Regions from separate parts of the Homo sapiens genome. Here region 1 is linked to region 2. The links come from fine-mapping of genetic effects on gene expression. A gene starts in region 2. The other region holds a variant in brackets. All regions are shown on one strand. Distances are from middle to middle. Region 1 overlaps LINC00702 (long intergenic non-protein coding RNA 702). Region 2 holds the start of LINC00702 (long intergenic non-protein coding RNA 702).

Region 1 (15,529 bases), 43 kb before region 2:
AGGCCCTACCCACGTCCCTCCCTGCCCCACTTCACCAGCTCTGACATGAATGGGTAGGGCGCTTGTTCTGCCCACAGCTATGACAAAAGCCCTAAAGCTTCATCTTCTAGGATTTCAAACTTTCTCACTGCTGTGCCAGCCATTTTATTTCACATGTTTCTAAAAGGAGTGATTTTAACAAAACCAATTGAGCAAATCCCCTATCCTCCCATCTATAAAGATGGCTACAGAGGGAGAAAGAGAACATTATTCTAAAGAAGCCACTATCTTTTCTGCCTCACTTTTCCTGCCCAAGCCACAGTGCCCTCCACACCAGCTGAACCCCCACTGATATAGGGGCTAATGCTCTGGGGACTTGGGGGGAATGTGGGTATGATGCCCATGGGGCCCGGAATGGGACAACTGGAGTAAAAAAGATATGTAAGTTTCCTGTGGGTCCGTGGACGCCATGGGCCACAGCTCAGGCATGAGCTGTCATGAAGGCCCTTGAGAGGGCCATGGGGTGGGCCACACCTGCTGCATTATTCGGGGGGGTCAGCAGGACACAATCTGGAGAACTTTACAGAGCCTCCAAAATGAAACAAAACATGCACACCCAAAACAAACAAACGAAAACTGGAGCCAACATTTGCACACATATTTTAAGAATAAAATGGACTTAATGCCTGCGTACAACTCGGTTCAGACTCAGTCAAAGTTGCAACGAACACCATTTTATTCACAGCGATTAGGATTTTGAAGAATGACATATATTGTTCCAGGAATAGTTCGCTGAGGAAATCACCAAGCAGCTCCAGCAGCCAGGCCCTGTGCTAGAAGGTGAGATGTGGAGATGGGGACCAGGACCCAGTGCTCCTAGAGGAGGAAGCCAGCTCCTGAGAAATCACACTCTGTGATCATACGTGAAGGTGCTCCACAGATGACGTCCTCTAACCCTGGTATCCAAGACTCCCAAATTCCCATCTCTCACCCTGCCTTTTCACTACAGCACCAGGAACTTTTACAGTGAGTTCTGAAATAAGATCATCACTTTGAGTAAAATCAGGCAGTCAAAATCGCAGGACTTACAGGGAAAATGGGGCGAGACCCAATGCTCAAAAATTCATCAGTGACAAGTGAAAAAGTTAGAAAATGATTGAGGACTTCAGCACAGTTTTGCATGGGCTAAGTGGCTGAGAAGACATAACTACAATAAGTCTGACAGTTTATTTTGAAAAAGCCCTCGTGTTTCTGTTTGGAAGTGGGTGTCCTGAGGGTTATGAAGTGGTGGCAGGGCGTATTTGATACAGGAAGGTATGTCCTAACCCCAGATGTAGAAAGGTGAGCTCAGGACATGAGGGAGAAATTTAAGTTGAATGCGTGGGTGCGTTTGTGTGTTCCTTCATGGCCTGGTACATCTGGGTAGCTTTCCGCATTGATCTAATATTCCTAATAGACATAAGCAAACATGACATTTGAGAATTTCTGTTATGCTCAAATTATTTCTTATTATACCAGTTGCATTGGAACCAATCTGAATTTCCAAACAAGCATTATGGTTTCTGCCTACTCAACACCTCCCTTAGTTATTTGCTGGCCCTTTTGTTTATAAAAAGGTCTTGAACAGAATTTGTGATTCTGCCCCACCGCCACTTCGCTGCACCCCTCATGAGTCTGCTCCCCCAACATTCTTTTTCATATGTAAGTAAAAATTGCAATCATCCATCCAGTTGCTCAGCCCCAAACCTAAGGGTGGATCATAAGTTTTCTCTTTCTCATTCCCCATATTCTCATCTCTTATGTCAGAAAATCTGAGAGTGACAGTGTCTCACTCTCTCACCCAGGCTGGAGTGCAGTGGTGCCATCATAGCTCACTGCAGACTCTAACTCTTGGGCTCAAGTGATCCTCCCACATCCACATCCCAAGTAGCTGGGACTACAGGTGTGCATCACCACACTTGGATAATTCTTCGTTTAATTTTTTCTTTGATAGAAATGAGGTTGGCCATGTTGCCCAGGCTGGTCTTGAACTCTTGGCCTCAAGCAAGCTTCCCTTTTCTCCTCCCATATGTTGCCCAGGCTGGTCTTGAACTCTTGGCCTCAAGCCGTCCTCCCTCCTTGGCCTCCCAAAGTGCTAGGATTACAGTCGTGAGCTACCACACTTGGTCCAAATTCCTTCCTATAGCCCAAGATGCCCTATGGGATCGGCTCCCACCTTCTTCTCTGACTTCATTTTTTCATGTGCTTTTATTCATTAACTTCTTAATATTTTGAGAGGCTATCAAGTTCACTCGCACCTCTAGGTCTTAGGAGGTTTTTTCTTTGCATTGGCTGATATTTCCTCATATTTTAGTGTATCTGGCTTTTTCCTTATTACTCAGGATTACTCAGACAGTTCTTCACAGGAGCCTTCCTGATGACCGCTATAAAAAGCAAAGATACTGAATGCCAAGCACATTTGAAAGAGACTAGCACCAAAGGATGAGAGATCATGGGTAATAGAAACACAAACGTTCCCAAAAGGAAACAACATGAGGCAAAACTTGCCCCATCTTCACCGATCTCTCCCGTGCTATGGTGGCCAGCTTCCCGAGCCTCTGTCACCATGCCCTGTGGTCTCAGTGGCCCCATCTTACACATCATCCTCATTCACCAATTCCGTTTGTGCCCAGTTCCCACAGGGCTGCATTTTGTGTTCCATTGTGAGAGCCAACTAATTTAATAATCCCTTCTAATATTTCCTATGTTAATCTCTCACCACAGAAACATAAAGGGAATAGTAACACTAGTCACAACCAACATGACAGCATTGCCATGCCGAGAGGCCCTTGGCCAGCTATGGGTCTGAGCGTCTCTCCAACAGCACAGGTGGGGAGGACCACAGCCCCACCTGTGCTTGGAGTGGATCCCGTTGATCACATGGGACAGCCAGCCAATGAGAAACACCCACTGCTGCTCCTTATGTTTCCCATGTTGAATGAATAAAGGAACCCAGCAACCCAGGCTGACATCTGCACTATGCAGACGCCAACTCGGTGTCCTGGGCTGAGAGTGAAGACACAGAGTGAAGGATATGGGGGTGGCCGCTGGTACAACTGTTCTCGAAGGACATTTTTTTATGGAAAATCAAACACATTTTGAAGAATATTCTTAGTTACTCATAAAGGCCACATTTGTACCAACAGCACCAAGCCGGGCTTCCACGCTGGCATTGCTGGAGCCCAGCGCTGACCCGAGCAGGCTGCACAGAGGTGCAAAGCGAATGCAAACACCACCTGAGGGGCCTGAGCACTTATATTTGGCCAGGGTGCAGATGTCCAGTTTAGAAGCTGATGGTTTCCATGGGTCCTGTGCTGATGTCATCCTGAGTCACTCAGGGAGCTGCTGCTTGTGCAGTGATTTCATTGCATCCTCCTGTCCCAGCATCCAATCGCGGTGGCTTAATTGTGGAGTTGAAAGCAGAGTGAGGCTGGGCGCGGCGGTTCACGCCTGTAATCCCAGCACTTTGGAAGGTGGAGGTGGGCGGATCACCTGAGGTAAGGAGTTCGAGAACAGCCTGGCCAATATGGCGAAACCCCATCTCTACTAAAAATACAAAAAAAAAAAAAAAACAAAAAAAAAAACAAGAAAAGAAAAATTAGCTGGGCATGGCGGCAAGCGTCTGTAATCCCAGCACTTTGGGAAACCGAGGCCGGCAGATCGCTTGAGGCCAGGAGCTCAAGGAGCCAGGACTGGCCAACACATTGAAACCCCGTCTTTACCAAAAACAAAAAAATTAGCCAGGCATGGTGGTGTGCTCCTGTAATCCCAGCTACTCGGGAGGCTAAGGCAGGAGAATCGCTGGAACCCGGGAGGCAGAGGTTGCAGTGAGCTGAGATCGTGCCACTGCACTCCAGCCTGGGCAACAGAGTGAGACTCGATCTCAGCAAAAAAAAAAAAAAAAAAAAAAAGAAAGAAAAGAAAAGAAAAAGAAAAAAGAAAAAATTTCAGAGTGCACTCCTTGGATTTCTTGGAAATTACAGCCAAGTTATTAGTTGAATGAAATAATGCTTGCCAGAAAATTTCACAAGTTAACCTGCATAAGAGTTTTCCCCTAATGTAGTATTTGGGTGCATTTTCACATGCTTGATGGAGGAGGGATGGAGTATTTAGTCTCTGAGGTCTGCCTAGACCTTATGCCAATCTTGAAGTGGCCCAAACCTTCCGTGATGACAGGGACATCACAGTGACATTGCCCTGTATCCCCCATGTTTTAAGCAGAACAAATTCTGTCAATGTGGATGGAGTAAATGAATACAAAACAAAGCCATATGGTTGTTTCCTGAAAACTTTTTCCTTCTGGAAATTTCCCAAAGCAGCTGTGCATAATGACTTACATTGGTCTCGATTGCCACCTTTTTCTTTGGACCCGTTATTACACTTCTTACTCTTAAAAGGTGGTGGTTAAGTATGTATTTTGCTGTTTCTCATCTCTATTCTGATTATTTTCACATGTATTAATATTTACAGATGGATTCTTGCTGCTGTGTAAAAAGCATGGTACTACTGCAAGACCGTGGATGTTATCATTCCATTTTAGGTTCTAGCTAGCTGTGTGGCATTAAATAAGCAACTTCACTTTTCTGGCTATAATTTCTTTGACAGTAAAATTGGAAAAAAATGATGGTAAAAAAGTATTTTTAATTTCACTTACAGCCTTAACATTTTACGGTATTTAAGTCAGCCTGGGTGCCTAGCACTTTGTTGCCTATTTTCTATTTTTAAGCATGATCATAGTTTTCCTCTCATACTTTCCCAACTTTGTCTCATTCTCTCCTGAACTCATATGAATCAGAAAAGGATTACCTTCCTCCCCTAGCACTTTGAAAACAGTTAACAAAAAACAGAAGTATCCTCCTGTGCTTCTCAGATGTTTCCCTTGCTGTTAGAGCTTCTATATTAGGACTATTTGTTGGGCTGCATTGTTGTAATAGACCTGTCATCTCAGAATTTACTTAAGCCAGACAAGACCTACTTTCTATTTTCAGCCTACTCTCTTTTTGTTGAGCTAAGTGCATACTGATCATCACACAATTTTCCAGACCTCTTCTTTCCTGATAGGTCGGTTTACAGCAGTTTCCAAAGAAAATATTACCCTGGTGGAATCATTTCTACCGTGGAGCAAAGCTCTCAGGCAAGTCTTCAAAATATTTGTTTCCCACTGGGTGTATCTGGGCCCAGATAATTATTTGTTCTAATAAAAGAACAGGATGTGCTTGTCTAAGAAGTACTGTGAAGGCAGTATATGTGGGATAGAAGATTGAATACAGAATGGTACATAGTTTTGATTTCACTAGGATGAAAATTATGCTTTACCTGTAATGAATCACAGTGGAAACATCCTTGTTGAAATATTAAACTGCTTCTCATTCACAAGGTGTCAGTGTTTTAATCCTTTAGGGAAAGTGCTTAATGCACATCATATTAGACACGGTGTGTCCCATCAATCAGATCCAATGGGTGATAGATGACATGCAATAGACCAAGTGCCATACCCTTATTAACAACTAATATCCATGTTACTGCATTTCATTAATCTGCCTAGAAGCCCTCCTGTAATAAAAGAAATGACTTATTTCTTCGGTACCCCTTGAATTTCCTTGCTAAACTTTCATTTAAAATTCTGAATTCCAGCTGGAAGACACTCAAGGAAATGAGCCTTTGGGATGAATACAATTGAATCATGAAGAGACTAAATTACACTATCAATTGTAGAGTGTTACCAGGCTGCCTGACAAAAAAAAAATGTGCAAAAAAATTGTGGCATAAAGAAGTATAACAGATTACCAAAAGACAAGATCAGCATTTTCTTCCTTCCTGGATTTGCATTAGTTCCTTGAATATAAAGTGCACACACTTAAACCTTGAGAACTTTTATATTATCCTGATGTAAAGTGATAAGGTGTTGACTCTAATTTAAGATTGGTTTATAGTGCATAAAGAAAATATGATTTGATTTAGATGTGGCTATGCCTGAAACAATGCAGCATGGTGTAATTACAATGAGAGGCGCTCGTACTGAATGGGAGACTTCCTTGCTACTAGAAACCTATTGATTTTGCTGCTAGAAATATTAAGGAGTCCTTTTAAATTTTTTTTGCTTAGAAGACAGAATTAATACTTCTTCATAGGGTTGAGGGAGGGCAGAAAGGACATTTCTGGAAGAGGAGGTGTCTGGATGTGACTTGAAGCGTACATGGTGGGTTTTCAGGATGAACAAGGTGAAGGATGGCATTCCAGACAAGAGGAAACAGCTCCTGCAGAGTCACGGATGCATGAAGCACGTGTGGAGGCCCAGGAATGAAAAATAATTTGTTCTTATCAAAGCACAGAATGTGAGGAAGCGTGGTGATGAAGCTGTGCATGTGGACAGGTGGCCAACTGAGTCATGTTTTCCAGGAATTTACACGGGAACATTACAGATCATATTACCCTAGGAAGAATTCTCTACCATTTATTTAAGGACCTGCTATTTAACAACATGGCAATCAATAATCAAAGTCCAAGGAATGGTCACTCATAGATCTGATAATAATTTTTCCAAAGGGTTGAAGACAAGAACTTGATCTCTCTTCCTTTTCTTAATGTTTCTAGTATTAACATGTGTACTGACAACTTGATAATCCTTTGAAGTGAAGAGAATTTTTCCCTGGGTCTCTCCCTTGCATCTACCAGAAAGAAGAAAGTTTAAGACACTTGTTTACTTAGGCCAGATCCTTGTACTGACATAGACTCGGAGAGAGGTAAATAGGCTATTGACTCTGAAATCTCAATAATTATCACAATGTAGTTACAGATGAATTATTCTACAATCTTTATCAAGTCTGGCGTATGTTTCTCAACATTTAACTGAATGATTTGAATTAGTAGCTTTACATAGGAGCTTCATGCACTCTGTTACTTTTATTTATTTATTTATTTATTATTTTTTTTTTAGGCGGAATCTGCTCTGTCACCAGGCTGGAGTGTGTTGGCGTGCTCTCGGCTCACTGCAACCTCGGACTCCCTTGGACTCCCTGGTTCAAGATTAAATGTTTACCGTACATTCCTATGGTCTTTAAAGTTGCTTTTTGTTTATCTTTATAAGGCTGAGGATGATTCTGGGTCATACCCACTTAAGAAAATTAACACTGCTATGCTTGACTCTGGAATAAAATGTTGCATTCTTGCAGGTGCATGAGTCAGTAAGCAAGAAGACCGAA[C/G]ATGTTACTTCTTCAGGAACATTTGGGCTCTACTTCCCTTTGTCCTTTTTATGTGAGCTGGGCATTTAATTATGTATACAACTACACATTCTTGTCAGGTACCTCAGGTTTCATAAGAGGTTGTAAATCTTGTTAAACCACACGCTTCTACCTTAAGCCAAGAGCATGGAATAGCTGCTGTATTCCAGATATTTTTGGGGAGTCTAACCTGCTACTAACTCATGCTCATTATTTATTAAAAGGCTAATTACAAGAAGGATTCATTGAAAAACATAATTGGACTATTGCCTGAGGAGTATGTCATCCATCCTGAAATGCAGGCTTCTCTAAGTTAGGCTGGAAGAGAGCTGCATTTCTGGATGGTGCCCTTTAGCTTGCCAGCCGCCTGGGTCTTCTCTCCAGCCTGTCGCTCCAGGACACTTCTCCTATGGAATCACACTGTGGCATTGTGCCCTCCAGGACACTTCTCCTGTGGAATCACACTGTGGCATTGTGCCCTCCAGGACACTTCTCCTATGGAATCGCACTGTGGCATTGTGCCCTCCAGGACACTTCTCCTGTGGAATCGCACTGTGGCATTGTGCCCTCCAGGACACTTCTCCTATGGAATCGCACAGTGGCATTGTGCCCTCCAGGACACTTCTCCTGTGGAATCGCACTGTGGCATTGTGCCCCATGCCTTCTCTCCAGCCTGTCGCTCCAGGACACTTCTCCTGTGGAATCGCACTGTGGCATTGCGCCCCATGCCTTGAGGGGCACGATGGAAATGGCCACTGTGTTTCTGGTTGGAACACTCATGAACAGTGTTTACCATGTCACACACTGTCCTTTTTAGGGAGACCCATGGGGAAAATGTGCCAGTGAACTAAAATAGATGTGTCCCTCCCTCCTAAATGAGTAATTTTCTTTTCCCTCATGGAATCTCTGAATCACTTAATTAATTGTATTTTTTACTAGACTTCATTCAAAATTTCGAGTTAAATTTCTGGTTCTCTAGTATCAGTCTGTGACATTCATGCATTTTGTGTACTTTCTTTAGTACGATCTCTCCAAACCTTATTTTCTATTTCCCAAATATAACTAATCACTAAAAAAAATCCTTATATTATGTACATGTTTGTCTTAAATATTTAATGAAACATGGTAGTTGATTTAATTAAGATAAAATGCCAGTGATATAAGTAATATATCATTATAAATAATAATACAGAATAATGTATTTTTATCTGTAAATATATTTAATATTATTTATCCTATTTAATATTTATCATGTTATTTATGAATAATATATTGTTAAGTATAATAATAAAAATAGATAATACGTAATGTAATAAATAAAACACCAGTTATATTTGCTATGTAGAATAATCTTATTGAAATTGAATTAATTTTAGACCCATTTTTCTTTAATATATAAATGAGTAAGTTAAGTACAACAAAAAAATAGTCAGACCTGGCCATATGACAATTTCTTTGTAGTTTTAACACATCTACCATATATGATCCCCAAGATTTCAAAATAAAAGTAGACAAAGCAGGCCGGGCGTGGTGGCTCACGCCTGTAATCCCAGCACTCTGGGAGGCCGAGGCGGGCGGATCACGAGGTCAGGAGATCGAGACCATCCTGGCTAACACGGTGAAACCCCTTCTCTACTGAAAATACAAAAAAAAAAAATTAGCCAGCCTTGGTGGCGGGCACCTGTAGTCCCAGCTACTTGGAAGCTGAGGCAGGAGAGTGGTGTGAACCCTGGAGGCGGAGCTTGTAGTGAGCCAAGATAGCGCCACTGCACTCCAGCCTGGGCGACAGAATGAGACTCCGTCTCAAAAAACAACAACAACAACAACAAAAAAAAACACCACCAGAGATGACTTAATCCAGGGTTTTTATTTTAAAGACAGCAGAACTGAATGTAATGGCCAGGCTCAAGTTATCAGACAGATAGAATACCTGGCTTTTTCATGTAAGTGTGATCACTGGTGAATTGTTTAACTTCTGTTAACTCAAGCTTTTCCCCATGTACAGCAGAGACAGTAATGATTGTGGTGATGCTGTGGAAATTACATTAAGGAAAGTATGAAACATTCAGCACAGCTCCCAGAGTGTCCGTATTGCTATCAAAAGCCAGCTCCTTCTCTCCCCACACTGCCTTCAGGACGGCAGAGCCAAGGAGAGAGCCCCTCTCAGCATGCGTGTTCTTCTCCATGGTGGATTTTAATTCACTTTGGCGTATACTTACAGTTGATATTCTCCTACTTGGTGTTCTGTTTTACTTTGTTTTTTCTTTTGGAGCTATTTACTCTTCTCAATCTTCCTACATAACCATGCTGTCTTTGAGGCAGAAGATGGTTCTTTTTCCCATGATGAGTTCTTTTCCCATGTCCCTGGAGAGGCAGGTTTCCTCCAGCCCAGGACACTCGTACCACAAGGTTGGCAGGTGGCACCCTGGATGACCAGCCCTTTGGGCAGCATCTCTTTCATATTCACTGGCTGCAGTTTCCTAAAATGCCAACATTCATATTCCTCGTGAAGTGTATGACAAGCCATTTCCCATTGAGTTAAAATGTAATTGCATCTGGAAGGGGTTTTAGATGACATTGTTTCTTAACACCCGTTGTCAATATATGGGTACCCCAAGCACTGGGGGATTAAAGGGGACAAGCAAGGAGGCTCGAGCTATTTGGGGAGCAGGAACTGCCCTCCAGGGATGGGGTGAGGAGCTTTCAGGGACAGTATAGTGCTCCTGGAGAGATTGTGCTGGTGGCTGGGGAAGTTTAGGAGGCAGCGGCGCGAAGCCAGAAAGATTATGCAATGACCCAATGCAATAACAATCTGGATGTGTTTTGGGCATTGTAGCATGTTCGATGGTTTTAAAAAGCATGATATACAGTCGCCTTGAGTTGGCAGAGTGAGACTGATTAAATGATGAATGTCATGGTAGGTACAGATAAAATCTTAAAAGCACTCGAAAACGTCACATTAAAAAAATTGTATTTTTGGTCAGGATGTGATTTCACATCTGGCTTGAAAGGGCCACAGATGTTTGTGGCATGGGACTGAACTTATATGTGCTCATGCTTTGTGGTGAGAGAATATCTGGCCCTCAGCCTGTGGATTAGTTTAGAGTTTAATCATAAAGCCTAGAATCTGCCTTGTTTCAATAAAACAAACAAACAAACAAATGACAACCAAAATAACAACAAATCCTTGCTGAAGGCAGGCCAAGGTGATAAGGCATCAAAGAAAGGGGTATGAAATTTGATAGGATGCCTGTGATGATCAGGCATTAAGGGTGGGAAGTTCTTGTGAAACTGCCTCAGCAGGATTCTTGCTGAAAAGGAGGTATGCAGGCCCAGCGAGGATGGGAGCCAACGTGGAATCCTCATTGAGAAAAGGGCTGAGAAGGCCCTAAGGAACGTTGTCAAGGAGAGAGACTTTGTCATGCCAAAGCTTAGGATGGCAACTTTATGAAACATAAGCTTGAGATCCCAGGCTGTCCTCCTCGAGCTGCAAAAACTGACAGGTACCGGGAACCTGAGGCCTTGCAACACTGCTGGGTTGAAGGACTTCCATCCAAGGACGTCCCAATGACCCCTCACTGCTGTGCTGATCATTTTTTCTGACCTCTAACCCTTTACCTAAATGATTTTGAATTCCTCCAAACAGGCTGAGATGCCCTTGGCACTGACCCACTTTTTCTGTACACTTCCCCCTCCTCCTCCCCCGACCATGCCTGAATTCAGACCTCTAGCCCTTGGATCTGTTATCTGACCCAAGAAGTCTTGTCAATTTTAGAAGGCTATCACCTTTTAACAGCCATTTCTGCTGCTTCCTGCACACTTTCTAATTTCTCCTCTGCTTTCCCTGGAAATCTGATGCTTGACTTGGACACAATTCAACCCTGTCTCCTTATAGAGACAGCTGCTGAATGAATGCTAGAAATTTAAATTCTGCTTTTAGCTTAGGGTTCTCTGCCTTCTTTAAAAAAGTATTTCTAGAAAACATATACAATATATGCTGCTGCAGATTCACCTTTTTTTTTTGCTTTAATCCTTTGACTTGTAGTAGAAAATTGCTTTTAAGTAAGAAGTTTCCAAAATAGTTACACTTAAAAATAATGCTCCTTTTATACATTTGTTGTGGAAAGGCACTAAAAAATGCAAAATCGTGAGGACAAAAACTTCCTTTGATTTAAACCTATTGGTGACTCAAACAACTTGCCTGAAAGGAATTTACTTTCTTTAAAGCAAATCTTATGCAATATAATGTCCCTTGACAAATTAGGGGACATTAAATATCAGTGAGGGTTCTGCTCATTTTTGGTTCTTCCTAGTGCACGTGCTGAGTGTTCAGCACACTATATTTTATTGAATTCTCCAAGCTACTATCCATGGTCCTATTTATAGAGGAGGAGGAAGCGGGGGCTCTGAGGTGGGATCAACATGCTCACGGTCACCCAGCAAGTAAGAGGGGACCCATTCCCAGCGAGGCTGAGCATTTCCAGGACAGCTGCCAACACCATCCTTTTACTGGGAGGTTCTGATGTACCCAGAGGATGCTGGAAGCTGGGATTGGAAGAATGGGTAGATCTCAGAAATCATGAAGTCCTGTGGTCTTCAAACTGTGCCCCACAAAATGATCTAATGGCTTCCACATGTGGATTTTACAAAAAAGCGTCATCAGAACAAAAGAATGTAAAAACTACTGACTTTTCCCAAAACTTACACTTTCCCAATGGGAAAATTGAAAATTTGAAAGTCCACTTAAATTGCTTCAGGTTGGTCAGGCACGGTGGCTCACGCCTGTAATCCCAGCACTTTGGGAGGCCGAGGTGGGTGGATCGCCTGAGGTCAGGAGTTCGAGACCAGCCTCACCAACATGGAGAAACCCTGACTCTGTTAAAAATACAAAATTAGCTGGGCATGGTGGTGCACACCTGTAATCACAGCTGCTCGGGAGGCTGAGGCAGAAGTGCTTAAACCCGGGAAGTGGAGTTTGTGGCGAGTCAAGATTGTGCCATTGCACTCCAGCCCGGGCAATAACAGCAAAACTCCGTCTCAAAAAAAAAAAAAAAAGCTTCAGGTCACACAGCCGAACAGCTGTGAAGTGATATTTTTTTCAGTCCAAAGTTCTTGCTACCACACTAGGATGCCAAGTCAGTCATTAAAATATAGATAGATAAGACCAGTTTAATTTCCATCACTCTTTCAGCTTCTTTGATCTTCTGTTAAAAATATGTAAAGCTCAAAGGGCTAAGCATTTATCCAACAGCAGAATTGCCTGCAGCAACCACTGACCCTTGAGCTGTGAAGGTGCACACCAGTCTCAGGACCACACAACAGAAGGGGTAATGGCAGCTGATACTGTATGACAACTGGTAGACCTCCGCTACGTCAGGAACTGCTCAATGCTGCTATTTTCTGGGTTAAAGTAGTTGGCAGGTGAACATAAAAATCCAAAATCCATCACTAAAAATTGAATTGAAATGCAAAATAAAATGCTGCTCTGACCAATGACAAAAAAATAGAACTTCTCAAAGAGTTTCGGTGAAAAGCAAGAAATCATTGTGGAGAGGAACTAGGGAGAAGTCAACTCCAAGGTAATCAAAAAGAGTTCTATTTTGCCTGAGGATTTTGGAATAAATTCAACAGCACTAATTGGCCCCGGATGTGAATAGGTAGCCAGGGGCATGGGATGGGGCACAGACACCGAGAGCTTCATCTTCCTGAATAGGAAAACTTAGCTTCCAGTGTTGAGCTGCCACACACACAGCTGCAGATGCAAATGACCCATGTTTCCCTCTGTGTTTCCTAGCGTCTCTCCTTCTAGTCGTATCTGTTGTAAAGACTCTCATTCATCCAGGTGTTATTTAAAATAGAGGAGAGAATAAATTCCATTTTAAAGGTGTTACTTTGGGTCAATTCTTGGAGACAGGTAAACAAGTCAGGGCTGGAAAATATGACTGAGAAGCCAGGGCCACTCCTCTCTCCTCAGCAACAGCAGAGGATGCTGTTAAATAAAGTAATTCACATGAGCCTGTGGGGCCCTTTTACCTGCATGGACAGCCACACTTTTTCATTGTTCCTGGTCCTCTTACCCTCTGCAGGAATTTGCCCAATTCCAAATATGTCTCAAGCTCGTATAGGAAATCAGTTCCTATGGAAGGACTAGTAAGGGTGGTAAATGAATGACTTTTCCCAAAGTAATTTTCATTCTCATAAAAAATGTTTGCAAACCATAAATCCTGTCAGACTTACAAAGGAACAAATCTATAATGCTAGAACTTCACTCACTGAGACTGTCTTTCAGGAGAAAGGACGGGGGATTTGGAGATAAGCAGGCTTCCATGGGGCTTCTTCTCAGGGTCAGCCCACAGTCCTAAAGAGCCCCCGTCTATGTGAGGCTAAAAGCAGGTGCATCTGTACTCAGGAGGGTCTCCATAGACAGCCGTCTTGCCCACCCAGCTGAAGAAGGCTTTTCAGTTTCGACGCATCAACAGCCGTGCTCTGCTCTTGGCAGCGAATCCCAAATGACAGCTTCTGTGAGTGTCCTTGTAGGCACAGTGGCTCTCACACCACAGGGGAGAAGTGCTGTGTCTTAAGCTCATCTCAGGAATATTTCTCCCTCCCAGCAACACCCAGAGAAGGGCCCCCTTCACCCTAGGCTGTGGTCCTGCATGGACGGTGGAGAGCAGTCAGGGTTGAACCCATTCGCCCAGCCCTGCCCTTAAAGGAACGTGTGGCTTTCAAATTGGAGCAGCTTATCCTCTTGATTTTGCGTCATGTATAAATGAAAGAGGAGACATTTTTGGTGCTTCTTGTGACTGGAATCTGCCGTAAGCAAGCTCCCCTGGGAGTATTGGGCTGCGTCTGGATGTCTCACTTACAGTGGCCCTTCGTCTCCATTTCAATCTTTTCTTTACTTTATTCATCCTGCTCCACCCCTTTAGCTGCTCAGACAGCACATGTTGGAGCTATCCTCTCTCTCTCTCTCTGTTTCACCCACATCTAATCCATAGCAAATTCTGTCCGCTTAATCTTCAAAATGTATCTATGATCTGGCCACTTCTCTCCATCTCTACGGTGACTACTGTGGTCCTAGCCACTGTCGTTTCCTGCCAAGATGATGTCCACAGCCTCCTATTTGGTATCGAGAGAAGCCATGGCCCCAACAGCCTAAGCAGTGTATTCAGATGGTGCTGGTTCTCTGCCCCGTATGCTCCATGCGCCCACTTCTCTGTTTGCATCGCGGCTGCAGGGCCCCTGACGCTTCTGCGGCTGCATCTCCGCCAATGTCCTCCCTGGCTCTGGCCCTTCGTACTTCCTCTTTTCTCTGACTTTCGGAATGTTTTCTTCCTGGGTTCAGTTTGTTGAAGACTTTGCTCAAATGTCATTCCCTCTTTAAGGTCTTCTTTCCTGCACCCAGACGGCTTTATCTAAAATCAGTCTATCTGCCCAGCAACGGCTCCATCCTCCTTCTGCTCATCCCGGCACGGCATTTACCTCCTGAAACACACTAGACATTCTAGTTGTTTATATATATTGTTTGACTTGCCTCTCAAAATGTCAACTGCAGAACAGTAAGGATTTCCAGGTGACTGGCACTGGCCTAGCCTCACTACTCAGGAGAGGATGCAATGGGTGACAGACATTCAGTGATTATTGATCAACTGGCTGGTTGGATGAAACCCAAATCCCTGCCCATTCCATGGGTGCTGGCTCTGCAATTCCTGTGCTGTCCCCCTTGGGTTCCCTCGGTGAGAGGCCTCCATGTGAACACACGCTGATCCCTTGCCCTTGACGGTGGTGAGCTGGCTTCATTCACCGGGAGGAATCTCTCGCACTTTCATGGTTCTTCCAGTGATTGAAAGCAGCCATCAGGAGCACTTCGTCTTCTGTGGAAGCAATTTTATCAATATAAATCTCCATCATTATCAGGGAAAGACATTAAGAGGAAGACATTCTGTTTCCTGAATTACCCAGGATTAGATTAACAAAGTTCATTTATTATTAAACTAAGGTACTATTAGAATATGCTCCCATGCTACAGTGCCTGGTTATGGAGTACTAAATGATTCAACAAGATAATTAACCCCTGCATCCTTTAAAATTTTTGAATCCAAATCACTGTGAAACCTACCACAGATAAACACAAGAGGGGTATGAACTATAAACATTGTATATTTGAAACATTAAATTTTATAACTTTCTAAAGCAAATGTCAGATATAAAGAAGATATAAATTGGGAGGAAACCTACAGGAAGCTTCTGAAAGAGCATGGCTGAAATGCGGTTGTATTTCTTTGCTTCAA
Region 2 (15,529 bases):
AAGAAATTTGACTGATTTTGTAATGTCATGAATTTTCTCTGCTTCTTGGGAGCCTTCCAACATCACCAGTGGCCCTTCGTGTGGGTTTCATGGTGCTATTCAATGTTTACCATATCGCACTAAACACGGAAATTATGCAAGAACTGCGAGATCACTTTTTACTACAGTACACAACTAACTAGAGACACAAACTGCCCACGTGGCAATGATCAGAATTGCAGGGCTTTATGCGGAAGCTCACAACACGTGGGCTCACCACAATAGCAGTGGGAGGTGCCTGTGAAATTATCATGGTAGTGCAGTATGTGCCACAGTTACTTTTATGCGGTTATGACTTAATACTGCATTTTTACATTGGCTTCTATTTCCTTGTCTGTAAATGGTGCCATGTACAAACTATAAGAGTTTGTGACCACATGCTTTGATAAATGTTAACCTCATTTAATAGATTTGCATATATTTATAGTAGTAAATGATAAAATAGAATAGTATCTACATATATTCTATGTATTCATGCCATACTTGCTTCTTAATGTTTTAATATTTCTAGGCTACATGTTGGTCTACAATATTTTTCAAACTGTTATAAATTTCCAAAAACATTTCCAATATAGTTAGTGAAAAAATTATTGTCTAAGTGGACCCATGAAGCTCAAACCCATGTTGTCCAAGTGTCAGCAGCACTGTGGTCAGTGAGGTTATAGTTATTTCCTTTTGTAGTTCTGTGGCCATATAAATTTGACATCATGCTAGACGTTCAGGTCTGTTTATCCATAAACTTCTGTGCATGGGCTCTCCTCCCAGCTCAAGTGGATTGGTGAATTAGTGGAGTCAGTGCAACAGTTGGGATTCAGGCAGGTCAATGATTGTTTCAGGGAATCCAATACATCTTCTTCTCTTCATCCAAATAAATAAATGTTATTGTTGCCACATTCCTAGTTCTCAAATGCACCTGGCCAGGTGCTGCCCATTCTTAAATGCTGGGCTGTTTCGCAGACGGCTGCCCTCTTCACCTTCCCGGGGGTTCTACCTCAGTCAGAGAGCACTGGGCTCAAACTGTCCTCGCATTATGATCTGGACATCGGTAGTCTTTGACCTAAAGAAACACAAAATGTGTTCAGGGGACAAGTTTCATTTACAGAGACTTATCAAATAAGCCATAGTTTAGAAAACTCTCTCTGCTTTCTTCTCTCTTGGACTTTACAGTTCTATTAAAAGTGGCTTAGCTTACCAGGCTTTGAGGTTTACATGAATCAATGCTTCTCCATTGGAAAAATGAATCTCAAAACCTTTCTAGTTGGACAAAATCTTCCAACCATTTTTTGACCAGAAAGATGAGAATTTGAGAAGCCAAGTCACTACTCTTGTCACTTGCCAGAGCAGCGTCCCCAGAAATTTCCACTGGCACTCTGGCAAAACACCTTCACTCACAATGAATGGGGACTTAGGTGTTAGTTTGATTGCTTTTGACGGTCTTGATTCTTCCAGGTTGGCACAGAGAACCTGTAACATAACTCCAGAGCAGCTGTTTTCCCTTTTCCTGACAGTATGTCACGTCAAAAATTCTACCAGGCATCACTACTGATCAGGCATAAAAGCACTCTGAATAATAATAACGTTTTATGTGGTTCTTATTGCAAGAGGTAGAATGTTTTTGGGGGTGAGTAGAATTTACATTTGAATTTAAATTTCTGTTCATTTGAATTTAAATTTCTGTACGTTTGTGTGTTGTGAGTGTGTAGGTTTTTTGTTTTTAACACCAAGTATATGTTACTTAATAAGGCAAAATCAGTAAACGTACTCAATTTTGAAAAAAAAAACTATAATTAAATGTGTTAACCGATATTTAATTTATGTGGATAAAATGGTGAGCAAAAGCAAACTTTAGAATTACAGTTAAGACTGAGACAGAAAGCTAACTCTTCATTGACCCTTCCTTAAGAGAAAGATTCTCTCTCTCAGGACTTTAATCTGACATGGTTCCGAAAATAAAGATGTGTTGTTTTTTGAAATTAGAGATTGAAAGATGGTTATTTTAACAAACTGATTGGACCTTTTTCTAAAAAAAAAATTATTTCCATAGGTTTTGGAGAACATGGGCTATTTGGTTACATGGGTAAGTTCTTTAGTGGTGATTTGTGAGATTCGGGTTCCTCCCTTCACCCAAGCAGTATACACTGAACCTGATTTGTAGTCCTTTTGCCATTACCCTCTTCCCACCTTTTCACCCAAGTCCCCAAAGTCCATTGTATCATTCTTATGCCTTTGTATCCTCATAGGTTAGCTCCCACTTATGAGTGAGAACATGTGATGTTTGGTTTTCCATTACTGAGTTACTTCACTTAGAATAATAGTCTCCAATCCCATCCAGGTTGCTGTGAATGCCATTAATTCATTTCTTTTTCATGGCTGAGTAGTATTCCGTCGTATATGTCTACCACAGTTTCTTCATCCACTCATTGATTGATGGCATTTGGGCTGGTTCCATATTTTTGCAATTGTGAATTGTGCTGCTATAAACATGCATGTGCAGATGTCCTTTTCATATAATAACTTCTTTTCCTCTGGGTAGATACACAGTAGTGGGATTGCTGGCAGACTTCATTACCAAGAACCCAAAAGCAAATGCAACAAAAACAAAGATAAATAGGTGGGACTTAATTAAACTAAAGAGCTTTTGCACAGCAAAAGCAATAGTCAGCAGAGTAAATGGACCACCCTCAGAGCGGGAGAAAATCATCACAATCTATAAATCTAACAAAGACTAATATCCAGAATCTACAAGGAACTCAAACAAGTCAGCAAGAAAAGAACAAACAAGTCAGCAAGAAAACAAACAATCCCATCAAAAAGTGGGCTAAGGACATGAATAGACAATTCTCAAAAGAAGATATACAATATACAAATGGCCAACAAACATATGGGAAAATGCTCTACATCAGTAATGATCAGAGAAATGCAAATCAAAACCACCATGAGATACCGCCTCACTCCTGCAAGAATGGCCTTAATGAAAAAATCAAAAAATAATAGATATTGGTGTAGATCCAGTTAAAAGGGAACACTTCTACACTGCTGGTGGGAATGTTTCTAGTATAACCACTATGGAAAACAGAGTGGAGATTCCTTAAAGATTGTAACTATATTTTTTTAAATTCAGAAAAGAAATGGTTGTGTCTCAGTTTTTACTGTTACTGCTTTTGTTGCTCCTAGACCCATTTCGCATTCCCTTTGTTATTAGGGTCCACAGCAGTGTTCCCAGTATTAATGTTACCTGGAAACCTCAGCCTAGTGCAAACCCTGAGAGCCCGTAACAGTGCAGACTGGCAGAGCCTCCCACAGTCATTTGGCTCAGAGCCTTACTCAGCACCGTGCCATGCAGGTGTGCAAGACATGCCCTCTTATGGGTCTTGGGACAGAATTTACAATCAAACAGAGATATATTTCCATTCTCATGGCCAGCACCAAGCATATACCAGGGTTATTCTAGCATTCTAAGAATGTAGGGTCCCTTTTTTCCTTTCCGTGAAGACATTGGGGAACAGTTGTCTCACCAGCCAAGGGTGACCTCAGAAACAGTCTTTACACCAAGCTTTGCTTCAGGGTCTTGCCTTCCTTGTCCCTAGCAGCAGCACTGCCCGTGTGTGCATGGTCACATACTGGTGTGCCCACTGTGCCCGGGGGCTGTGGACTGGGCTGCCTGTGTGCCCAGCCTGTCAATGGACATCTGGCTATGAGGAAGTGCGTGGCTAAGTTAGTGCAGGGAGTACAAGAGAACTTCAGTGAGGAGACAGCTTAGCGCTCCCAACCAGGCATTGGGTGCTTTTGTTTTGTTTTGTTTGTTCTGACTTTTCGATTTTGCTACCTAGTAGAGGTAAACATTCTATGGATGATGTAATGACCAATCCTTCATTCATGGTTTTTTCACATCCAGAAGTGTGGATTATTTTCTATGAACCCTCTCTTTCAGATGAAGATGTCTACCCAGTGAGTCTCAGGGATTTGCCCAGGAAGAAACAGGGAGACAGCAATTGCATGAGGTCCTGCACAGGCCATCCTGACCACAATACTCTGCCTTTCCACGATACCCTCCCTCCATTCCCCAGGAAGGCGGCCAGAGAGAGCTAGTGCTGGTTTAAGACGGGCTTCGGTGATATGAAGGCTAATGTTCTGTCGGCTCACACCTGTGTGCTTTCTGTTGCTTTCAGCCAATCTTTGTGGATTATTCATTGCCTGTACCATCATGGTTGCTAAACAGTTTGGATATTAGTCTTGGATCTTTTGCCTAACTTTAAAGTTGACAGTCAAAACATGATGGAAATTAGTTGAGAATTAAGATGACACATATACTGTGATTTGTTTGTCAGGATTGAGAGAAAGAGTAGGATGTTGTTAGGATAATGATGCATGGTATGTAAGGGAGGTGTCACAGAGTTTGATGTAGAAAATCATGCGTCATATCTGTATTTTTACCTGTTCTGCAAAAATCAATTTTATATTGTTGTTATAAATAAATGTACATTGTATTTTTTTAACCCTCTTCAGGATTAACCCTCCCATTAGTTGTCTATATTCTTTGCCTGCTGTAAAATAGGAGATATGCATTTTCCTTTCATCCCCGTGCAAGCTGGCTAGGAAATGAATCCCCACGGTAGAAACTCATCGCCCTACAAGTTAATAGAAAAATGCTGTTATTGCTGGTGTAAATTAGGTTGCATACTTTATTGGTTACAAGTATTTCTTGCAGGCAATTTTACATCATAAATGCCAAATTAACTGCTGTTGATTATGTTACTGATCATTCTTGCTATTTTATAACAAGAATAGTTACTCATATAAAAATCCCCATATACCAGATATAAAAATAGAAAAACTTGAAACATCAAGAACTTGGGTGGAAGGTGGGAGAGCTGGGCAAACAAAAGCCTGTTTAATTCCGAATTATCTGCAGTGTAATTTAGCTTGAGAATTGGTTTGGCCTTAAGTAGAATAACAGAATCTATTGATGATATTTTTGTTGTGCTTATACCTTTCTGTGTTCCTTGTGTTCTAATGCAGAAAAAAAATTGTCAGGGTCCTTAAGAGTCTATGACTTGTATTTTTGCAGAAAATATTATTTTAGTCAGGGGCATTTTAAAATGCTTTTGTACGAATGTTCAATTTTGCAATTTTATGGTATGTAAATGGATAAATATTGGTAGTAAAACATTTGAATCTACATGATCTTTAATTTGAAGTGTGTTATTTGAAACTTATTGCAAATGTATTTGGAAAATGATTATTGAGGCCTGCAAAAGCCCATTAAAAAGTGCCTGTCTGTGCTATATATTCAGCCTTTCCCAAAGTCAGACCATGCCTCTTGTTTTATCCAGTGACATATGATATAAATTTCTCTTTAGATATTGTAACTACCACCTGTAGACTCAAACGTGGGTTATGATGAAAAATAAAATTTGTCATTTAACACATTTGTCGGGAATTTATCTTTTAGTTGATTAAACTGTTAACTAAAGTGTCAGAATTATTTATTGCAATATCTACCTCTAAAAAGTGTGTGCTTGTGTATCAATTAATAAATGGTTCACAATAAATGAGTTTATAAAAATGGTGACAGTGTATTTGGTTAAGACTTCAAAGGGTTTTAAGCAGTAGAAAACTGCATGTTAGAATCAACAATTTGTGATTGTTCTTATCTACAATTTGTCTTATTATCTGGGTTTACTTTTTTCTTAAAATTTACTGATTCATTCTTCAGCTTTCACATTAAATTATTTGAATTAATTTTATGTATATGCTTACAAACTTTTGGGTGATATTTTAAAAATATCCCATCAATAGATAATTCATCCCTGTCATGTGGATTAACCTCCAGGCATCTCTGTAACAAGAGTCAAGGATTTCTACTGCACATGGTTTAGAGTCTTCGGTTACTCACTTGTTTTTTAGTTCCCTGGGGTGGCTCTACTTGTTTCCTGGGGCTACATGTGTTTCAAGCAGTCAGCCAAAAAAGAAAAAAAATCAAAGTTTGAGTGTCATCTGTAACGATATATCTATGAACATGGGTATGGAGAAGAGCACCACCATTTTTGTTGTTGCTTCCAGAGTCAACAGAAAACCTCACCATCACTTTATCACACTAATTCGGCAATCGAAAACTCTTCCTCAGCATGTGAAATTGTTGCATCAGCTAAGTCATTTTGCGGCTAAATTAAAAGCAGACTGTAGATAGACTCTTCCATGTTGACAATTTCAAAAAGAATTCATATCTTTACATTTTAATAGTCTGAGTTTTTAACATTATGACTGAACGTAACAGCAGGAGAGCCAATAAGGTATGATGGCATGGAGGAGGAATTCAGGAGTCGGCCCTGGGAAGCACAGATGGATTGAAGTCAGGCTGATCCACACTGAAACAACAATCATCCAGCACTTGCCTTAGGAATAACAGGAAATTATTATGATGCAGAAAAGTATTATTCCTAAAGATGATGCCTTTACAATAGCTAATCTGTTAAAGGATATTGCAGATGGTGTCATTTGCCTAAACTTCACAAATAGAAATACATTTCAACCTATTTTTAGAGAGTAATTCATTGTATTATTATAATGCTAAAATTTAACTGGCATTGAAATGGAGCTAAGCTACTGAATAAAATGTGAGATTCTACAAGACACACACACACACCCTACAAACACACACATGCACACATATGTCTTCTTGAAGTAAGAGTTTAAAGGTCAAAACACGCTTTCAAAATTCTGAGGTCAAACATATTTCTGGAGTCAAAACATACTTTTAAAACTGTGCTATGATATTGAAACAAATTGTTTCACAGGCGTCAAAGCAGGAACAACCATTCTGATATTCGAACAATAAGTTTATGGCAGCCAAAACTTTGGAGCAGAAAGACCAAATTATTGGATTTCACTTACTCTTTGCCCTCAAAAAGCCACAAGCATGAAAAAAAAGCAATGGAAATGTCTCCTGGTGCTATGAAAAGGGAGGCGTCTTGCTCATTTTAGGGCATTAAAAAAAAATCTTTCCACCGTTTTTATTTTTCTATTTTCCTGCATCTTCGACATCATCAAAGCATGTTCTCTGTTTCTGTCATTTTGAGACAAGCACTAACTGTACTGTCTTCTGTAGTCTGGCAGAGATAATGTATCTGGGTTTCCTTAGTGATATTTTAAACACATTTTTTTTCTGTCCTCCCATACAGAGCGCATACTTTTGGTGGAATTCCTGTTGTGTGGGAGACCAGCTTAGTTCCATTCACACACTCACACTCCCAGATGTGGCCCCATGGGTTTATTCCTGTCTCGCTGTTTCAACAGTCAGACGTTTGTTCTTCAGGCTGCTTGCTCCAGTATCCTCGTCAGACAACCGCAGGGAGCCTTTGTGCATTTATTTATTTATTTGCTTGGTATGCTTCAGTGTTTTGGGGGCTTTTCTTCCCACTGAGTAAGTTAAAACTCTGCAAAAGTTTGCCTCCAGAAAAAGGGAGCCAAACTGCCCCTTGATTACTTGAATTGTGTAAATGAGGGATGGCAGGTGTTGGGGCAGGGAAGGTGGCAGAGAAAGAAGTGGAAATCATTTGGAATCCAGGATTATCACTTATTGTGCCCCTGTATTGAAAAATTACAAAATGAAACTGAAAGGTTGGGCAACAGAAAGAGGATTATGTTTATTTTCACTACCACTAAACTTTGCCACTACAGGTTGGTTTAATTAACCCGTGAGATGAAGTGCTGAACTCTCTGAAAAGATAAATGCTTTCAGAGGTGCCTCAGACACGAGAAACACAATAATATTTATATTTCTTTTTGACTGAGGAAGGTCACTGTGGTGACAGTTTCAGGAGGACACCTGTATTATTCTCTTTTGTCAACAGGACTTGTAATATGAACAAAACATGCAGTCACTTCCCACCAGGATGTGTCCTTCTGGACATCAGCATACGTGCAAGATGACAATTTCAGGCAAGAATTTTTTCCTCTAATCTATGATTTAATCAGTTGGGTGTCTGGGAGTGGGTTAGAGAACATTTCTGAAGTTAAAGCTTGAATGTTTTTCATGTGGCTGGAGGTGAGGGCAGGCGTCCAGGAGACTCAGGCAGCAGCTGCATAGCTCAGTGCCTAAGTGATCTCTGCTCTTAGGAGGATCAATTGAAAGCTTAGGGGAAATAGGGCTCCCAGGAAGATGGGTGCTTAAAAATGAATACTGTAAATGTTACTCAGCATACAATTGAGGGAAAGCCATCACTCACAGGAAGTGAGCACAATTCTTTATTATCTGGGCCCTGTCACTAATGAAACATTCAGTGTAGAAGAAATCAGTCCCCTTTGAGTTTAGGCTTGTCATGATGGCTCTGGGTTTCCTTCATTCACAGCAATCACACTTAAAATGTTTACAGTCTGAAGACCTGAAAAACATGTCCACACCCTTGAATTCGTTGTAGTTACACATGAGGTCAATGTTATCCATCTTCATTTATCAAATAAAGAAATTGAAAATATAGTCTGTCAGAAAATAATTCCAATTCAGATCTTCAAGAGTTCACGTTTTATTGTCCTATTGTACTAGAGCTATTTTTGTAAAACATACATCTTTAAGCTTTCAGACAGAATCGTGAAAACGTAAACTTATCACACACAACAGCATAATATGCAATGCAGTGCAGTCTAGGATATACGCATTAGTGTCAATTTTTAATTAAAAAATGCTGAATTTTGTTTAAAAAGTTTTTTTTTTTCCTGGATCTGGAAAAGGAAATGCTTTTCTGGAGTAAAACACAGAGGATAAGGTAGAATTCTTACCTGAAGTGCCTGTAGGAGATTCCAACGTGAATGCATTTCACACGCTTTTACAAGCTACTTTCTTCTCCTTTCTTTTTTCAATCATCTTAGCAGTCATTGTTTATTTTCTGGAGATGAGTAGTTTTTATTTATACTAGAAAGCCCATAGTTTTTACATAGGTTGCCTTTCATTCTTGGTAAGACACTGAGAAAAGGAGAAAAAGAAAACTTTAGAGATAGAGCAATGGTATAATTGATTGAATGTTACGTGAACTGTCAAGATCAGAACTTTCTCATACTATCTTAGGAATAAAAATATGTTCTGGTTAGTAATCCTCACCAAGTTTGGAAGGTTAGAGGTGACTCAGCCTCCATGAATGTGGTCTGGTCTTATTTTAAGAAGGGCTTCTGAGTCATGTGGAGTTGTGTCAAACTATGTGTTATGTTATGTTATTTTAAAAAGACAGCTTGGAGAGAGGAAATTGAACTATCTTTTTTTTTTTCCAAAAAACTCTGCCCTTTAATAGAAGAAAAGGGCAAGTTATTTCCCACAAATCTCACTCTATGTAATGTAGCCTAGAATGTATTTTTACCACAGATATATTCTTAAAGTAGTTTGGCATGACCTTACTTAGAGTATTTTAAGTTTGTGACTTGAATTGTTTTTGCTTAATATTTATCCTTAGATGTGGTTGAATGCACTGTTCATAACTGAATAAATTTACTATCGATCCATTATTATCGTGATTGTTCACCTATTCAAATTGATAGCTACACAGATACATGTACTATTTTTATCAATATTCAAAATGCATAATGTTAAGTGAACTTCAATTTTCTCAACTCAGAAAAGTAGCAATAGAATAAATCTTGCCTATCTCCCTGAGTTGCAATAACATGTAATAAAATCCTTGGAAAAGTACATCAGATAATGACGGGTTCATGATGGCTCACGTTGACTGGTAATGCCATGGCTTACAATTGAGTATGAAGTCTGCACTGCGGCTCAGCTGAGGGAAAGGCACATCCAGGTGGGTGAGCAGGTCTGCTACAGGAACTCACTCTTGCATTCTAACTTCCCTGAGCCTTTGGGTATGTTTCTCGATGTTATACCAAGAACGTTCTGACATTTTAACCTCAAGTCGTATAGGTCACCTCTGGTTCCATGATTCAGCCAACCGATTGAGAAAATTATTAGTGCCATTATTAGACCCTCAAGCTAAGACACTGAATCAATAAATCCGCTTCAAAACATATACCATGATACAATTGTATATTATTTCCATCTTAATCCCACACTCTTAAGATACATTGTCATTCTTATTTCCCAGGGTTTGTTGATATTAATTGGCAGATCATGCAACTCTTTGGATGTGTATCATATCCCATCACAGGTTTGAGACTTGAGTCAACTCTAGGTCTAAAAGGAAGAAAAAGGAGTGGGAGTAGAACTTAATGAAGATTAGTAGGGCTCTCAATGCAGTACTAATGGGCGGTGGTGGGCATTAGAGATTCTTCAAGAAAAGGGAGACTAACTTCCTCAGGCACGGCTGCAGACTGCTTCTACTGGCCAAGAAGGCAAGGAAAGCTGTCAGAATTAAGGGCTCTAGGTTTCCAGATTAACTAGAATTTGCTCATATATTCCCTTCCCAAACCTCAGAATCCCACTCCTTCCCAGTAAATGTCCTAAATTTAATAAAAGAGACTCTATGAGGTTTGGAATTCAATTTTGGCTATAATTCAGCCACCCACAGGATGAAACTTTGGGTTTCCTGTTCAAAAACCTTGGCTCTCTGGCTACAGGAGATAGGATTTCTTTCAGGACCAATCTAGAAGCTTTCAGGACCCTTATATAGAACTTGATCTTGGTACTTAAAGCCCTGAATTTCTCCAGTGTAGTTAGAACTAGCCAACCAACACAATTATATTCATCATTTTCATTAAAATGGTCAAACTCAATAAATTCTTGGTTACTCAGATGGGCACTTAATAAAAGATGTGTAAAGGTGATAATTTGAGTCTTTCTTTCTTTCTTTCTTTCTTTCTTTCTTTCTTTCTTTCTTTCTTTCTTTCTTTCTTCCTTTTCTTTCCTTCTTTCTTTCCCCTCTCTCTTTCTCTCTGTCTCTCTATCTCTCTTTCTTTCTTTTTTTTTCTGACCTCTCCATCTGATGCTAGGAACTACTTACCCCTCTTTTACCACTGTGAATAGGGTACTTAGTGCTTTTAAATCTAATCAGATCAGAAAAACAATTCCAAACACACACACACACGCATACACACACACACACACACACAGAAACAACTCAAAAACTGTACCCTTAAGATCCCATTCCTCTGAAACCACCCTTAGTACCAAATTCTGTGTAAGTCAGGTTTAAACCAGAAATATAGCAACTCTACAGATTTGTCTTCAGGTATTTGACCTTACACAACATTGGGAGCTGGTTAAACCATCTCTGCAGAGTTGCCTTTGTGTCTAATGCTGGATCTTGAAGTCCATAGACTGGACACCTGAGAAGAAAACATGGGTATAGGGTGGAGGAGGAATGGTGAGCTGGGCCCCAGAAGCACAGGTTGAAGCCCAAATGACAGACTGAGCTCATGTCAGTTCTCATCACCTCCACCTTTGCTTATGTGGGTGCAGAGGACGGGACTCTGTGTCATGGAGCTAAACACACACACATCTAGCCCAGGAATCAAAGAAGCTTCAAAAAGAGGAAGATGCAAGTTCGGCTGGTGCCTCCCATCAATATCTGCAGATAAGTGACAATGTATGTAAGATTTTTTTTTTTAAAGGCAATCTGGACAATACAGTAAAACCTCATCTCTACAAAAATTTAAAAATTAGCTGAGCTTGGTGATGCATGCCTGTGGTCCCAGTTACTCAGGAGGCTGAGGTGGGAGGATCACTTGAGCCCAAGAGGCAGAGGCTGCAGTGAATTGAGATTGCACTGCTGCAATCCAGCCAAGGCAACAGAGCAAGACCCTATATTAACTTGTTTTTTTAGAGGAAAGGCTGCTCCTCCATTTCCCCAGGCTAAATCTTCCACAACAGTGGCTACAAACATTAAGAAACATAGGAAAGATTGTCCTTGAGAATGTAGTTCGTTTGAGCCTAGATGCTACCTTACAAAGTTATCACATCACTTTGCTTTCATTTTCCATTTTCTTTTGCAACTTTTTATCTTTCTCTGCCTTCCAAACTTTCCTACTGCAATGCAGAGTATATTCTTGTTTTTCTTCACGTTTATTTTTAGGATGCAGCTATAGGGAACGTTGATTAAATGTCTGAGGACTTTCTTCTAAGGTTTTCTAATTGCTTCAGCAAAACTGCTTAATGGCTATTTTTAAGTCCTCTAGAGGCATTCTTAAAAACCAGCACACTGCTATCAAATTCCACTTGCTCTTCCACGAAGGTTTTCAGAATATTTCTTTATCTTATCATCACCATCCTCAACAACATCATTGTTAAGTAAAACATGGCACACGTGGCCATGAGCTACACATCTAAGTTTCTCTACTGACCTTCTGTGATGAATACGATTTCATTGTCAAATAAGTAATTTAGGGATCCTTGTCTGTTTCCTGTTCTAATCTCAGGGGTACTCACTACATGATGAGTAACACAAGAGGATGAGATGAATCACTGCACCAACGTAGTTTAATTTTTAGTTTAATTTTTGTGGTCAGTGCTTTACTGGCTTGGGATTGGGAGAGCAAAGAAATAATGAAATTTGAGGTTAGAGAAGCTCTGGCTTCCCATTGAAGGTATGAGAGGAAAAGAAACCTAAGAAAGAAAGAAGCTGGGCAAACATGGCTCCATGTACCCTGGGTTTTCTCTTACACTGGTCCTGCTTTGAGGATGAACACACACAAGGGTAAGGCATGGGAGAGGGCATGGAGCAACTGTCTAAGTTATGATCGAATAAAAATGCAGCATTGCTTATTCAGGATCGACAAGTAAATACAGTGGGATCAGGATTACTTCTCGCTGCCAGCATTTTGATGAAGAAAGGTATTCAAAAATCTGCTTCTATGGAGGTACAATTTCACACAGACTTACATTGCCAACTTTCACTTGACGGAAACTTTGTAGACACAATGCAGAACCTCTTCTCCGGAAGCAGATTATGTCAGCAGGACTTTAGTGTGTTGATTTAGGGAAAGGCAAAAGGTGATGGTGTTGTAATTAAAAAAAAAGGGGGGGCCCACACAGAAAGTCCCAAACTAATTGTTTAGAAGATGATTTTGTGGGGTGGCATGAAAAAAGTTTGGATGAAACATTTTAACTTTTTAACGTTCAGCAGCTTCGTATCCTACGATGAAAATCTCTCTCCCTTACACTCATCAGCTCACTCTTACCTGGACCATCCTCATTAATCAATGCGCCCACATCTTCCCCATTTAGTGAGGCTCCCAAATTCTGCACATCAAGTTCAAAGAGCACATCACATACAAAGAACAGAAGCTTATTTATTAATTTAAAGCTGATTCAAACTTCCCCTTAATACCCAATCCAGAAAGTTAAGACTGATTCTAAATGTTAAAGTGTGTTCAGGAAACATGGTCTTGTTCATCAACTCAGATTTCCTCCAGGTTCCTGAGCAAGGGGGAATTGCCTGGGCCCCGTGCATAACTCCTTCTCCTGGTTCACGCTTCTTGTGTGTCCCTGAAGATGTTCCTTGTCATTCTGGTTGCTAGACGCCCTAGTGACACTTGATTCCAGTTCTCTGAGTGGTGAGTTCAGTGTATTCTCATGACTTGGTGATTTAGCTGGACTCTATCTATCTAATATCAGGCCTTGAGGTCAGTACGTACACCCTGGCATCTGGATCTGACCCCATTCAGTCCTCAGCCAGTGCAGCTCTCCCTGCAGACTTCGGCTGGTTTGTTGAAGCACCTCCAGAAAAGCTCCTTGGCTCTGTACTCAGAACCCTCCTAATCCTTTGGGCAAAGGAAAACAACTGCATTGCTATCATATTGCAGACACCCTAAGGATGCCTCAGGAAAGATCACCCCAGGCTCTCCCCGCCTCACCAAGCTGCATGCTCACAGATACTGCATTATAGGTAATGACAGCAGCATCATAAGTGGGTAAGTGGGCACCCTGTTCATCAGTCTTCTCTCTCATCCCAGAGAGACAGCCTTTCCTCCTAGCTGCTGCTCAAAATCCTTCCCCTTCTGAAAGAGGGTCGGAGAATGTGTGCCCCAACATTGCCCCCTTCTGTCTCCATCTCTCGTGCTTCCACCTTTCTGTCCAGGTGTTACCCTATTTCTTATCTCCTCCCGTCCTCTGTTGGCTTCTGCTCTCCCTCTTTCCTAGAGCTGTGGTGATTGAACAGCGCCAGAGAACATGTTTCATTGAGAATATATAGGAAAATATATTAGTTTAATATTTTTAAAACCTATCTCTATTAGGTCATTTGAAAAAACAACAGGCAAACAAAATCCCTCCCTACTTATAGACCCATCTTTCCCCTGTCCCAGGGAAGTGTCTCAAGAATATAGACTATATTTTGCCGCTGTCTTCTCACCAACTTTTCACGTCTTAATCCCTCAGCCTGACCGCCACCCCCTTAACTCCACTGATATATTCCTGACCACCAATGATTCCCAGGCCAGCAAATCTAATGACAACTTCCATGCATCTTCCTTAACTATGAAAGAGCATTTGTACTACTGATCTCTCCTTTGTGAAACACTTATGTTTTCGGTTTCAAGTAGACGACCTGCACTGATTTTTGTCTGACATCAGTGACTTAGCCTTCTCAGTCTTTTTTATTTTTATTTTTTTTCAGTGTCACCTCTAAACATAGAACAATCTGTGTTGGAGTTACTTAAGTGCAGGTCATCTTCATATTCACTCTAGACTCTTCCTATTCACTCCCACAATTCCCATTGTCAGCTCAACATCAATGAAACACTAAAATAACAAAGGAGCGCTACAGCTCTTCTGAAATTGGAAAACCCATATCCTACTGCACACCTACAATCTCCCCGTGATGCCACTGGGTCATTCCCATCTCAGTTACCATACCTTGGCCCAACCTGCCATCATCTGTTGCCCCAGATACTGAGAAAGCTATTAGCTGTTATCTTTGCACCCATTCCAAGAGTCCTCTAGGAACTTCTCCATGCTGTAGCCAGAAGGGTTTTTCAAGATAAAAATGTTTTTTACATGACCCTCTCCACTATTTTAAAATCCTTCTGTTTTTATCTCCCCCTTTCCTTTTTTTCTTTTTCTTGAGACAGCCTCATTCTGTCACCCAGGCTGGAATGCAGTGGCACAGTCTCAGCTCAATGCAATCTCCACCTCCCAGGTTCAAGCGGCTCTCCTGCCTCAGCCTCCTGAGTAGCTGGGATTACAGGTGCCCAAAACCATGCCTGGATAATTTTTGTATTTTTAGGAGAGACAGGGTTTCACCATGTTGGCCAGGCTGGTCTCAAACAACTGACCTCAAGTAATCCCAAAGTGCTGGGATTATAGGCATGAGTCACTGTGCCTGACCTCTCCCTTGCCTCTTAAAAAGCAAAAGCCTACTCATGACCTCTCCGTGGGCTACCTCTTGTCTCATGTGGCTGTGTCCCTCTGCTGTCCCTTTGCTTTTTGTGTTTCAGAGACATTGGGTCCTACAATGTGCCAATTTTTATCCTGCCAGGGACTTTCGTACATAAGATCTCAGTCTTACTCCCACTGCCACATCCCTCAGAGTCCCTTTTTCTCTGGCTAACT

Evidence for each region. PIP is the estimated chance that this variant, and not a neighbour inherited with it, causes the effect.
Region 1: its variant is the best candidate, but not a certain one, in a credible set for the expression of LINC00702 in fibroblasts (GTEx, PIP 0.72).

What each region holds. Positions count from the first base shown.
Region 1 is chr10:4,192,055-4,207,583 of GRCh38, forward strand. LINC00702 (long intergenic non-protein coding RNA 702) reads right to left here. Exons shown (of 3, transcript NR_108040.1): 3 at 14,822-15,112. Among named protein-coding and RNA genes, the nearest start is that of LINC00702, 44 kb to the right of the region's middle. The variant C/G (reference allele first, on the strand shown) is at 7,221.
Region 2 is chr10:4,234,687-4,250,215 of GRCh38, forward strand. LINC00702 (long intergenic non-protein coding RNA 702) reads right to left here and starts at 9,226. Exons shown (of 3, transcript NR_108040.1): 1 at 9,137-9,226; 2 at 8,818-9,001. It overlaps LOC105376369 (a long non-coding RNA gene), which reads left to right and starts at 12,360. Exons shown (of 2, transcript XR_930588.2): 1 at 12,360-12,674.